Homo sapiens: one gene and its partner. The protein of the gene in region 2 interacts with the protein of the main gene of each other region in a pairwise test. Each region holds a gene or a part of one and is shown on either strand. Other genes may lie near its edges.

The links. The genes of interacting proteins can lie anywhere in the genome.
Region 1: the proteins of EZR (region 2) and KIRREL3 interact in binary tests that used the Homo sapiens proteins (3 or more experiments, as listed by UniProt).

What each region holds. Positions count from the first base shown.
Region 1 is NC_000011.10:126,990,369-126,995,263, forward strand, and holds part of KIRREL3 (kin of IRRE-like protein 3 isoform 1 precursor), read right to left. Parts: exon of another isoform or gene 4,712-4,895; intron 2,167-4,711; exon of another isoform or gene 2,063-2,166; intron 1-2,062. UniProt on the Homo sapiens protein: Synaptic adhesion molecule required for the formation of target-specific synapses. Required for formation of target-specific synapses at hippocampal mossy fiber synapses.
Region 2 is NC_000006.12:158,780,796-158,785,690, reverse strand, and holds part of EZR (ezrin), read left to right. Parts: intron 1-107; coding exon 108-382; intron 383-963; coding exon 964-1,047; intron 1,048-2,024; coding exon 2,025-2,171; intron 2,172-4,895. UniProt on the Homo sapiens protein: Probably involved in connections of major cytoskeletal structures to the plasma membrane. In epithelial cells, required for the formation of microvilli and membrane ruffles on the apical pole. Along with PLEKHG6, required for normal macropinocytosis.

The DNA.
Region 1 (4,895 bases), on a different chromosome or scaffold from region 2:
GCGAGAGCCGCCGCCATCTGTAACGTTGCCCTCACCACCCAGAGGCGAGGAGGAGAGCCCCCCATCCCTCCCGTCCCTTCCCAGCTCCCGGCAGCCACTAGGCTTTCCCCTTCCCCGTCCTAAGGGACCTCCCGGGCTCTGCTCTCTCTGGGCAGGTTCAGGGCTTTGCAAGCGCTGCTGCTGCCACCATCAGGCTGACTGAGGCACTGCAGCCTTCACCTGGCGTCAGGGCCCAAAATAGTGCCCCAGCTCTTGGTGCGGCTTCAGAAGAACAGCTCCTCTCTGCCTCCGCAGTTGCCCCTCACTCAGGTGCAGCTTCCTATGTAAGAAAAAGGCTTCAGAGGGCATCTCCCTGAAGAAACAGAACTCCTTGTGAATGTGGGGTGGACCCCAGCGTCCTCTAGCAAGACGCAGAAAAAGTGCAGGTCCTAGGATTTAGGGAACGCAACCACTGAGGGATTAAGTGGTGGTTTTGCTTTCTTTGCCACAAGGTCAGTGAGGCAGGGAAGGGTGGGAATCACTCCTCCTGCCACTCCCGGATGAACGTGCTAAGCTTCCTGTGCAATGAACCAACCGGGCCCCAGTGTTACTCTGAAGCTGTCATTGCTCCCAGCATTGCCAAGGGTGACAGGTGGACTGTCACACTGCACCAGAGCCGAGTCACCTGTGACATTTGCAGGTGACTGACAGAAATGGGCACTGACATGCATTAAAGAACAGAAGGACGCGATGGTTTCCTGTTGAAGCTGAGCAGTGGGTGGCTTGGCAGAGGCTGTTTCTCTTGGCGTTGTCTCTGGTGACCCAAAGGGCATTCAAAGCCTTCCAGAAAGGAACAACTTCCTGCAGGGCACGTCCACACTTCACTTAGTCAGGTTCTTCTTCTGCCTCCTGCCAGGGGCCCTCTCAGCATCTCTCCATGTGCTGATATTACAAGCACTGCTGGCTTCTCCTCTCATTACCCCTCATTCCATTCCAATATTTCCACACTTATTCACAGCCTTCTATGTGCCCAATAGTGTGCTAGACACCAGGGGTGATAAAAGACTTGGATTTTAATCAACCAATTAAGAGAAGCAAAGTCCCTGCCTTTGCTTCCTTCCTTTTTATTATTATTATTATTATTATTTGTCAGAACAGCCACAAAAGGAGCTACTCAAGCAGTATGTCCTTAATTACTCTTCAGCCCCAAAGCCTGGCCTGTTATTTCCTCTGGAAACTTTGTACCCCGAGGTAAAACTGAATGCCAGAAAGATAAAGAAACTGACTCAGAAAGAGTCTGGAATAAAAAAGAAATTGAACTACAATGCTGCCTCCTTGTTCGAAGGTCAGACCTGGGATTCGGATGCATGATTTTCATAGGAAACTCCCTAAAATCCTTTTCCAGTCCTAGACACTGGGGATTGCCACAAATTATAAGACTATGACCTGTCTTATGACACCACAGCTTAGGATACTCTCCTGCATTTTTTAGTGTTGATGTGGAACAGCTGGATGTACCAGCATCTTGAGGAACATCAAGGCACATGAATAAGTGAACCAGACTGAAAATGACTTTAGTCAAGCAAAGTAACCTCTCTGGGGGTATGACAGCAATAATGCCCACTTCTCATTACTTCTGCTGATGAAATGAGGTAGTGCTTGTGAAAGCCACTCTGCAACTTATGAAGCTTTACACAAATGCTAGTTATCATCACCATCATCATCATAAGAACATAATTACTGCCACGACTAACAACACCCTCAACAACCAAAAGAATTTGCCAGGCACCTACAAGAAAATTTGCTGGCAAAGAGCAAATAGAATGCATCACCTACTCCCTAGGAATGTGTCATCCAAAATAAATAGATTGTTGCTAAGAGATAATATTCAGAGAATCTTACAGTTGGAGAGGTTTTGGACGTCATCTAGTCTACTCTCTAACCCATTTCTCAGGAATTGACTCCTACATTCCTGATGGCCTGAATTCCACCGTGAGTCAGAACACTCTCAGCAATGAGAGACTGTTCAGTGGGCCAGCCTTAGACTTGAGACTTACATATCCGCAGTCATGGAAATAACACTGTCTATTTCTTGCTGAACAATCGGGGTTTTGCTTCATCATTGAGCTTGTCCTGCCAGCCTCCACCAGTTCCTGAAGAGAACAGGCCAAAGTGTGGAACATACAGGTAGATCTGATGATATTCTCTACTCTTAAATGGAAGGGTACTCAGTGCCAGAGCCTTGTAAAACATTTCCAACATCTTCTGAGTAGAATTGTTTCACTTGTAACCTTGGTTTCCCTAAAGCCAGTATAACTTAGCTTCCTCTTGAGAACAAGAAAGACATCATCAGCAAAATGTCCCTAGGTTTTTGTGCTCACCTGCTCCAGTGCTGTTTCCTCTTCTGGTTAGCACCCATCTTCAATGTTAGGCTGCCTGCGCCTCTAACTAGCCAAGGGGATCCACAAACTGGCAAATCTCATTCCTCAATGCACTCTTTCTGCTCAAGTCCAGCGTGCAGCCAGCAGTCCTGCCTCTGTGTGTTTCCATGATCTTTTTTCTTCTCTTCCACATTCTTTAGCTAACACATCATTCTGGCATTCATCTACCCACCATCCTTCTGTGCCTCCTCTCTGGAATGTGGACTAACCATTAAGGTCAGTTCCCCCCATACTTATTCTCTTGCTCACTTCATCCATCAGCTAGAAAGAACGATTAAAAAGTATATTTCCATTCAATTTTACATTTTTAGCCCCATGTGAAACACAAGAAATACCAAGAAGTAAAAATAACATGTTGATCCCTAAACCCGTGATGTAGAGAGGACCACAAACCCATAGGCTACTAGCAATGTTTCTCAGGTGTTTACTTAATTATCTCAATCCATCCTCAAAAGATGTATAATGGCACCCATGGCCATTCACGAGTTGACTCTTCCCTTCCCAACCTTCCTCTCCCACTTCCCTAACACAGCAGCACTCTAGCCATCATACTGCCCATGGCTTCTGAACATATCGCATTCTGTTCTGCCTTTTGTATTTGCATACACTGTAAGGTATGTAAGAGACTGGAAATCGCTTTTCATGCTTCGTTTAGAGAACTCTTGAGCATCCTATAATATCAAGCATGATGTCATCTCCTCTGTGCAACCTTTTCTGATGCCTTTGCTGATCCACCTGTTTTCAGAACACTCTGACAGCTCTGAACCCATCATATTGTAACCTTAATCGAAGTGTCTGCTCCCCAACCAGACTAAGAGCTCTGGGGCAGAAACATGGTCTTCATTATCTTTGCATCAAAAGCCCCAGCACAGTGCCTACTGCATAGGAGGCCCACAGTGAGTGCTGGCTGAGTGGTCAAGGGCTGAGCCTTAGTGTCATAAAATGGTATTTGATCACAAAGGAAGGAGCAGCATATTTCACCCACTGAGACACTAGACTATGTGGAGCCCCTGGGGGAAAATGTGGAATAGTGACAGCGATGTTTGTTTGTTATTGCTGCAACTCTTGGCCTCAGATTTCAGATTCCAGTTGTCCAGGCATAAGTTAAAAAGAATCTGCATAAGTTAAAAAGAAACTTGCAACAACAATCCACTGAATACAGGCCAAGTGAGCAGACCATCTAGATAATTCAGCATGATGCGCACACATCCTTTCTTATACTGACATACATAGGCCATCCATTGCAGTTTTAGTTTCAATTATCAAAAAAAAAAAATCAGCCTCAGATAAATCTACTTTGCTTTGCCTATGAAGACAGGCAAAGAGTAGGGTGAGAGCATAGCTCCCATTTGAGAAAAGTGGCTGATTCTGGAGATATCACACTGATTTAACATTAAGTGGTGTGTGCGTGTGTGTGTGTGTATGTGTTCAGTAGGGGGTCAGGAGGGCGTGGGAAGGCTTCCAGATGCCAGGAAAAACCTGTCCAGGGGATGCAGGCAGGTGTCTGTGTTTGGCTGCCCCCTTTGCAGTTATTTCCAAGGAGAAGAAGGATGACTTCCTCTTTCCACCCTTCATGCCCCAACAGAACAGCTCCACACAGAGCAGATTCACCTATGCTGGCCATTATTTCCATGGCTTTAACTTGTTACCAAGTATGCCAAGGAATAGCTGACATTTATTTAATGTTCATAGTGGTGTTGACTGTGTACGCACTGAAACATTGTATGCTTATGGAAGACATTTGTTTCCAAGCAGCTTATGCTAAATTGCAGTGATATAAAGGAAACACTTATCCAATATTGACATTTACCAACTTCTAGAAGTATACAGCCAGAATACTCATTTTTACCACTGGGAGAGGAGAAAAAGAATTAAAAAGCATAATGGTCCTAGCTCCTTCAGTGAGTTAGAAGCTATGAGTGAATGAAAGTTAACGTGCAGTAGGGGGAGGTTCAATGGGGGAGAAGATCCCCCACCCTCTTGTGACCCTTGGCTCTATGGCACAGTGTGCTTTCTGAGAGGACTGAAGCCCTTCCGTGCTTCATAATAAAGCTTTGGCAGATGGCAGGACATAGCATCCCTTCCCCAACCATGAGAGAAGTATTCTGATGATCTATAAGGTATCTATGTTCTTACTTGACCTGCACTTCTAACTGGGTAAATTCTGACTTTCTCTTGGGAAAAGAAAATGACATGCAATGACGTATGGAACAGTACTGTGTCTCGGTGCAGTCGATTCTCACATCATTCCTCTAACTGGAAATAAAAATCCCACTCTACTTGGAATACAGGATGAAGCGATTACAACCTGGGCGCAGTATACTGGCTGGCTTTGCTGCTCACTCCCTTACGAATAGCTGTGATGGGATATGAAATCCAAGGGAACTGTTAGCCCCCCAGAGCAGCTGCTCCCACCGACCCTGCTCCAAGAGTGCTGGGATGTCCGCTGGCCTCGAGGCAAGACAAGAGCTCCAA
Region 2 (4,895 bases):
GAAAACTGGCTTGAGGGCCCCATTGAGTCTTGGTTAGAAGCCTGTGTTGGGGACAGTGGGCCTTCGTCTTCCGGATTTGTGTGGAGAGTGTGGCTTGTTTCGTGCAGGTGTCTGCCCAGGAGGTCAGGAAGGAGAATCCCCTCCAGTTCAAGTTCCGGGCCAAGTTCTACCCTGAAGATGTGGCTGAGGAGCTCATCCAGGACATCACCCAGAAACTTTTCTTCCTCCAAGTGAAGGAAGGAATCCTTAGCGATGAGATCTACTGCCCCCCTGAGACTGCCGTGCTCTTGGGGTCCTACGCTGTGCAGGCCAAGTTTGGGGACTACAACAAAGAAGTGCACAAGTCTGGGTACCTCAGCTCTGAGCGGCTGATCCCTCAAAGGTGAGCACAGGATGACCCGGCCTGGGCAGGAGCAGTCATGCCGTCCTCGGCAGGGAGAAGTGATTGCCTTAGAAGCACAGTTTAAAAACACAAGGACTTCGCCAGTGTCAAGTGCTCCTTCATGCTAGTCATTAAGTCACTGACCAGCGACCTGAAACATAGCCAGGGAAGGCGAGCTGCCATTCCTCATGGAAACTAAAGCGTGGCCGTGTCCTGTGGGACATGGCATAGCAAACTTCTCGACCTGACTGCTCAGCTCCTCCTGGGGTATGATAGGTTGCCCCTGTGAAATCTGTTTTTATTTAGTAATGGTCACAAAAATTACCCCATTTGGAAGAAGAGGCCACTTAAAATACCTCTTAGTTTTTCCAGCAGAACTGAGTTCTTGTTCAAAATGCTAAGTCTTCCAGATTAACTGTCATAAATAGAAATGCTGCACATCAGGAAATAGAAACCAAAGCTCTTTGGGATTGATTGATTTGAATGGAAAGTAAGGGTTTGAATGTGGGTGGTAAGTGGGCCTCCTTCCTTGCCTGTCACATTCCTTAAGGATGACAGTGCTGTTTCCTTTTGCATTCCAGAGTGATGGACCAGCACAAACTTACCAGGGACCAGTGGGAGGACCGGATCCAGGTGTGGCATGCGGAACACCGTGGGATGCTCAAGTGAGTGCTGTGCCCTGCTGTTGGGATCTTGCCATCTCCGTGCGCTCCAGCATGTCTTTTCCTGTGACTCTAGTTAGTGCTTTAAAGGGCTCTGTGTCAGGCCTTGTGAAGACCTTGAGGGAACCGAGTTAAAAGTGGGGTTTTCTTAGGGAAGAGGTTTTTTTTAAACAAAGCCAGGTGTCTTGCCTGGGGAAAGAAGCAGTTTAGCTCAAGCCTTCAGGTTCTAAAAGCTTACACCCTCCCTTTGTAGAAAGTGTTGTGTCTAAACTTCATCTTAGTCAGAGGGGCATTGTTCACCTGCAATCAGCATTATTCTGTCAAAGAGATGCTGGTTTGCTCATTATATGAAGGTACTTGTCTTACAAAGTGTATATAAATGAAAAAGGATCCCAAGTGAGAAATGCTGATGTCAGAGAACCTGGACGTGGGGCTGTTAATGTAAGACATGGCCGAGCCACCTGATTCTGGGTGTTCTCGTCCTAGAGCCTTGTCTCTGGCCTAGTCTTGCGAGTCTGCATTATTTCAGCCTCTGAAGTTTGTTTGAGGTTTGAGCCTCAGATTTTGTGCTTCAGGGTTTCCTGTCTGGCCCAAACATCCTTTATGGAAGGAAAACAACTCAAAGCCTATGAGGAGGGTTGTGGGAAGACATGTGTGGGCAAGAGAAAAAGGAGGATTGTGCTGAGTGATAAAACTTAAAAACCTGTTAGAGAAACCAGTGTGAATCAGTTCTTCTTCAAAGTGTGGGGTTTGGTGGTGAGGCTCCAGGGCAGCACGGACCCCACCCCAGGCATAGCTTCTGGGCTGTATGGGTCCCCTCCTCACCGGTCGGCTGCCCGGCCCCTGCCTGCCTGCACGCAGCACACAGCATTGAGCCCATCCTACACAAGGCGCCTTAATTTAAAAATACTGGAAAGGTTTTACTGTTCTAGATATTGAGTGCTACCAGTGACTCTGCCTGTTTCACTCTCCCCAATTAGAGATAATGCTATGTTGGAATACCTGAAGATTGCTCAGGACCTGGAAATGTATGGAATCAACTATTTCGAGATAAAAAACAAGAAAGGAACAGACCTTTGGCTTGGAGTTGATGCCCTTGGACTGAATATTTATGAGAAAGATGATAAGTGAGTTGAAGTTCACAGTTATCTTCAGTAGGTAGGGTGGTGGGCCTGGAAACAATGGCAAAATGGCAAATTTGTGGGTTATTTTTGAAGTATTTATTTAGCAACTTACTATCCCAAAGTAGGAAACTTTTTAAAGGGCTTTTGGACTGCTGTGGCCCTCTCAAAGGGTGGTCCAGAGGTGTGGGTTATCCTCTCTCATGGTGGGCGGGGCCGATAGTGGGCTCAGTCCTGGTAGAGGAAGGCAGAATAGAGCAGAGGCTGCCTCTCCTCCCCGCTGCCTCTGAGATTCCACCCCAGCTGCCTGCAGGTACCAGCACATCCATCCATAGCTACTTCGCAGGCAGCCCAGCCAGTGCTCGACTCCTGGCTCGAGGTTTGTGCTAATCCAACCAAGAATATTGATGGTGTGATGAGAGACTTGAAAAGCTGTAAACAATAGCCTGTACGTGTAGACACTTGAGCTAAATGCTGGGAGTCTGCAGGAGATATCTTAATTGCCTCGCATTAGTTACGTTGTTTGTTGAGTGAGGGCCTGTAAGCAAGCTGGGTAGAGCAGCAGAGCCAGGCCTCTCCACAGGGACAGGCAGTTCCGCTTTCACATACAGGGCATTTGCCTTCTTTCTGCTGAGGATAAACAGGGAAAGTCATCCTAGTTCATGAGGGCAAGTTTCCCATGGTGAGTCTGCGACATCAGCATAATCCTAGATTCTGGATTGATCTGATCAGAAGCTACCTGAATTTAAGAGGCAGAAGGAAACTACCTCTGGAAAGAGAAGGGAGAGGCTCCTGACTGCCTCCTGACTACCGTCTCTGCCCTGATTGTCCACAGTCAGCCTGATTGCTCTGCAGGGCTCCCCGAAACAAATCATCTGATGGCCACCAGGTTCAGGGGCCTGGCAGAGAAGGTGCCAGGGCAAGAATGCTCCTGGGGTCTTTTTGCCAAGCCCTGCCTTTTGGCCTGGGTTCCTGCTTTCCACGTAAAGAGCAGAGTGGCCCAGAGTTCCTGGATGTACCGGTTTCCTTCCCAGCCTCATGCTGTTCCTTGAAATGACAGCTCTCCCCATTTCCCACTTGAGGCTCACCCATCTCATCTGTTCTCAGATATTTTTGTTCTCAGCATCCCCACATCTCAGGTTCCCCCAAAACCCTCTCTGGAGTTCTCAAAGGGAGTGGTGCTGCTTTCCACAAATGACCTGCATGAGTCCATCTCCATTTGCAACCACGCGGATTCCTGCCAGACCCCAGGGCACAGATCTATTTCACTTGGGCAAGTCAGGGACCTGTGCCAGCTGTGCCCAACCTCCTCTCACCTCCGGGGCCCACGTGGTGATACTGCACAGGGAGGGAGGCAGGCGCTGTCACAGGAGCTCCTCAGAGAACCTGGAAATGAGATATTGAGGACTCTCGGTTCGCTCCTACTCCAAGTGTGCTGGATGCAGCATTGGTAAAGAAGCACGGAAAAGCCAGGCACAGCGGCTCACACCTGGAATCCCAGCACTCTGGGAGGCCGAGGCAGGCGAATCCCTTGAGCTCAGGAGTCTTGCCCAGCCTGGGGAACATGGCGAAACCCCGTCTCTACCAAAATTTAAAAAATTAGCTGGCTATGGTGGTGCACGCCTGTGGTCTCAGTCAGGTGGCTGAGGTGGGAGGATCACTTGAGCCTGGGAGGCAGAGGTTGTAGTAAGCCAAGATTGCGCCACTGCACTCTAGCCTGGGTGACAGAGCGAGACCGTGTCTCAAAAAAAATTTTAAAGAAGTGGGGAAAGTGGGTACTTGGAACCAGGACACCATCTTTCCGGGAGACCCTAGAGCTGAAGCCGTGGCTATTAAGACAGCCATGCCAAGGAGCAGTGCACAAAGTCCTCGTGGGAACGTATGTGGGAAACTGCCTCTGCCTTGGAAATCTCTTCAATGACCAGATTTTGTAACGTGGCCAGGCCAGGGCTGTCCAAACAGGTTTTTCAACCTGCAGGAAAACAGCCATGGGCAGGAACTTGCTGATGTCAGCTTGTAACTGCCCCAGCCCACGTAAGTGTCCATTTCTTCCAAGTAAAAACGTGAGCTGTGTGCCCTATTTAGTGCTGTTTTTGCGCTCTGCTCCCCCTCCCCCACCATTGAGCGATGAACGTGGCAACTCTCTCAGATGGTTCTTTCCCCACAGAGCATGCTGGGGTGTTGGGCAGGCTCACTTTCTGCCTCTCTTCTCCCCATTCCTGAAGGCACACCCCTCTCTTCATGAAAAAAGCATTTATGTAGATATTCAGTCATTTAATAGGCCCAAATTCTTTCCCTTTTGAACAAATATTGACAACTTGGTAGCAGCATAAGCAGGAGACTGTCCTGAAGTCTGAGGAGTGCTGAGAACTCGCCAGCTGTTGCGCTGTTACCTCTCTCGGTAGAACTAGGAGAATTAGATATGCCTGAAACATTGTTCAGGTGAGAAAGCTGATCTATTGAATATGGAAATTGAGCTCTAAGAGATTTATACTCTGCAAGTAAAGTCTCTATTAAAACACCTGTTTTAGTATTAAATAGGGTCTGGCTGGGAAATCTGTCTCTTGGGGTTCCCTTTTCATTGTACACATAAGCATTAAGTGGGAGCATGTAGGACTATTTGTCATCTTTCTTTAAACCCTTAGCTTGGAATAGGTGGGAGTATAAAGAGGGCAAAAACAGGTAAGCGCCCTCCTGACAGGCATTGTAAGCTTGTGAACAGAGGAAGTT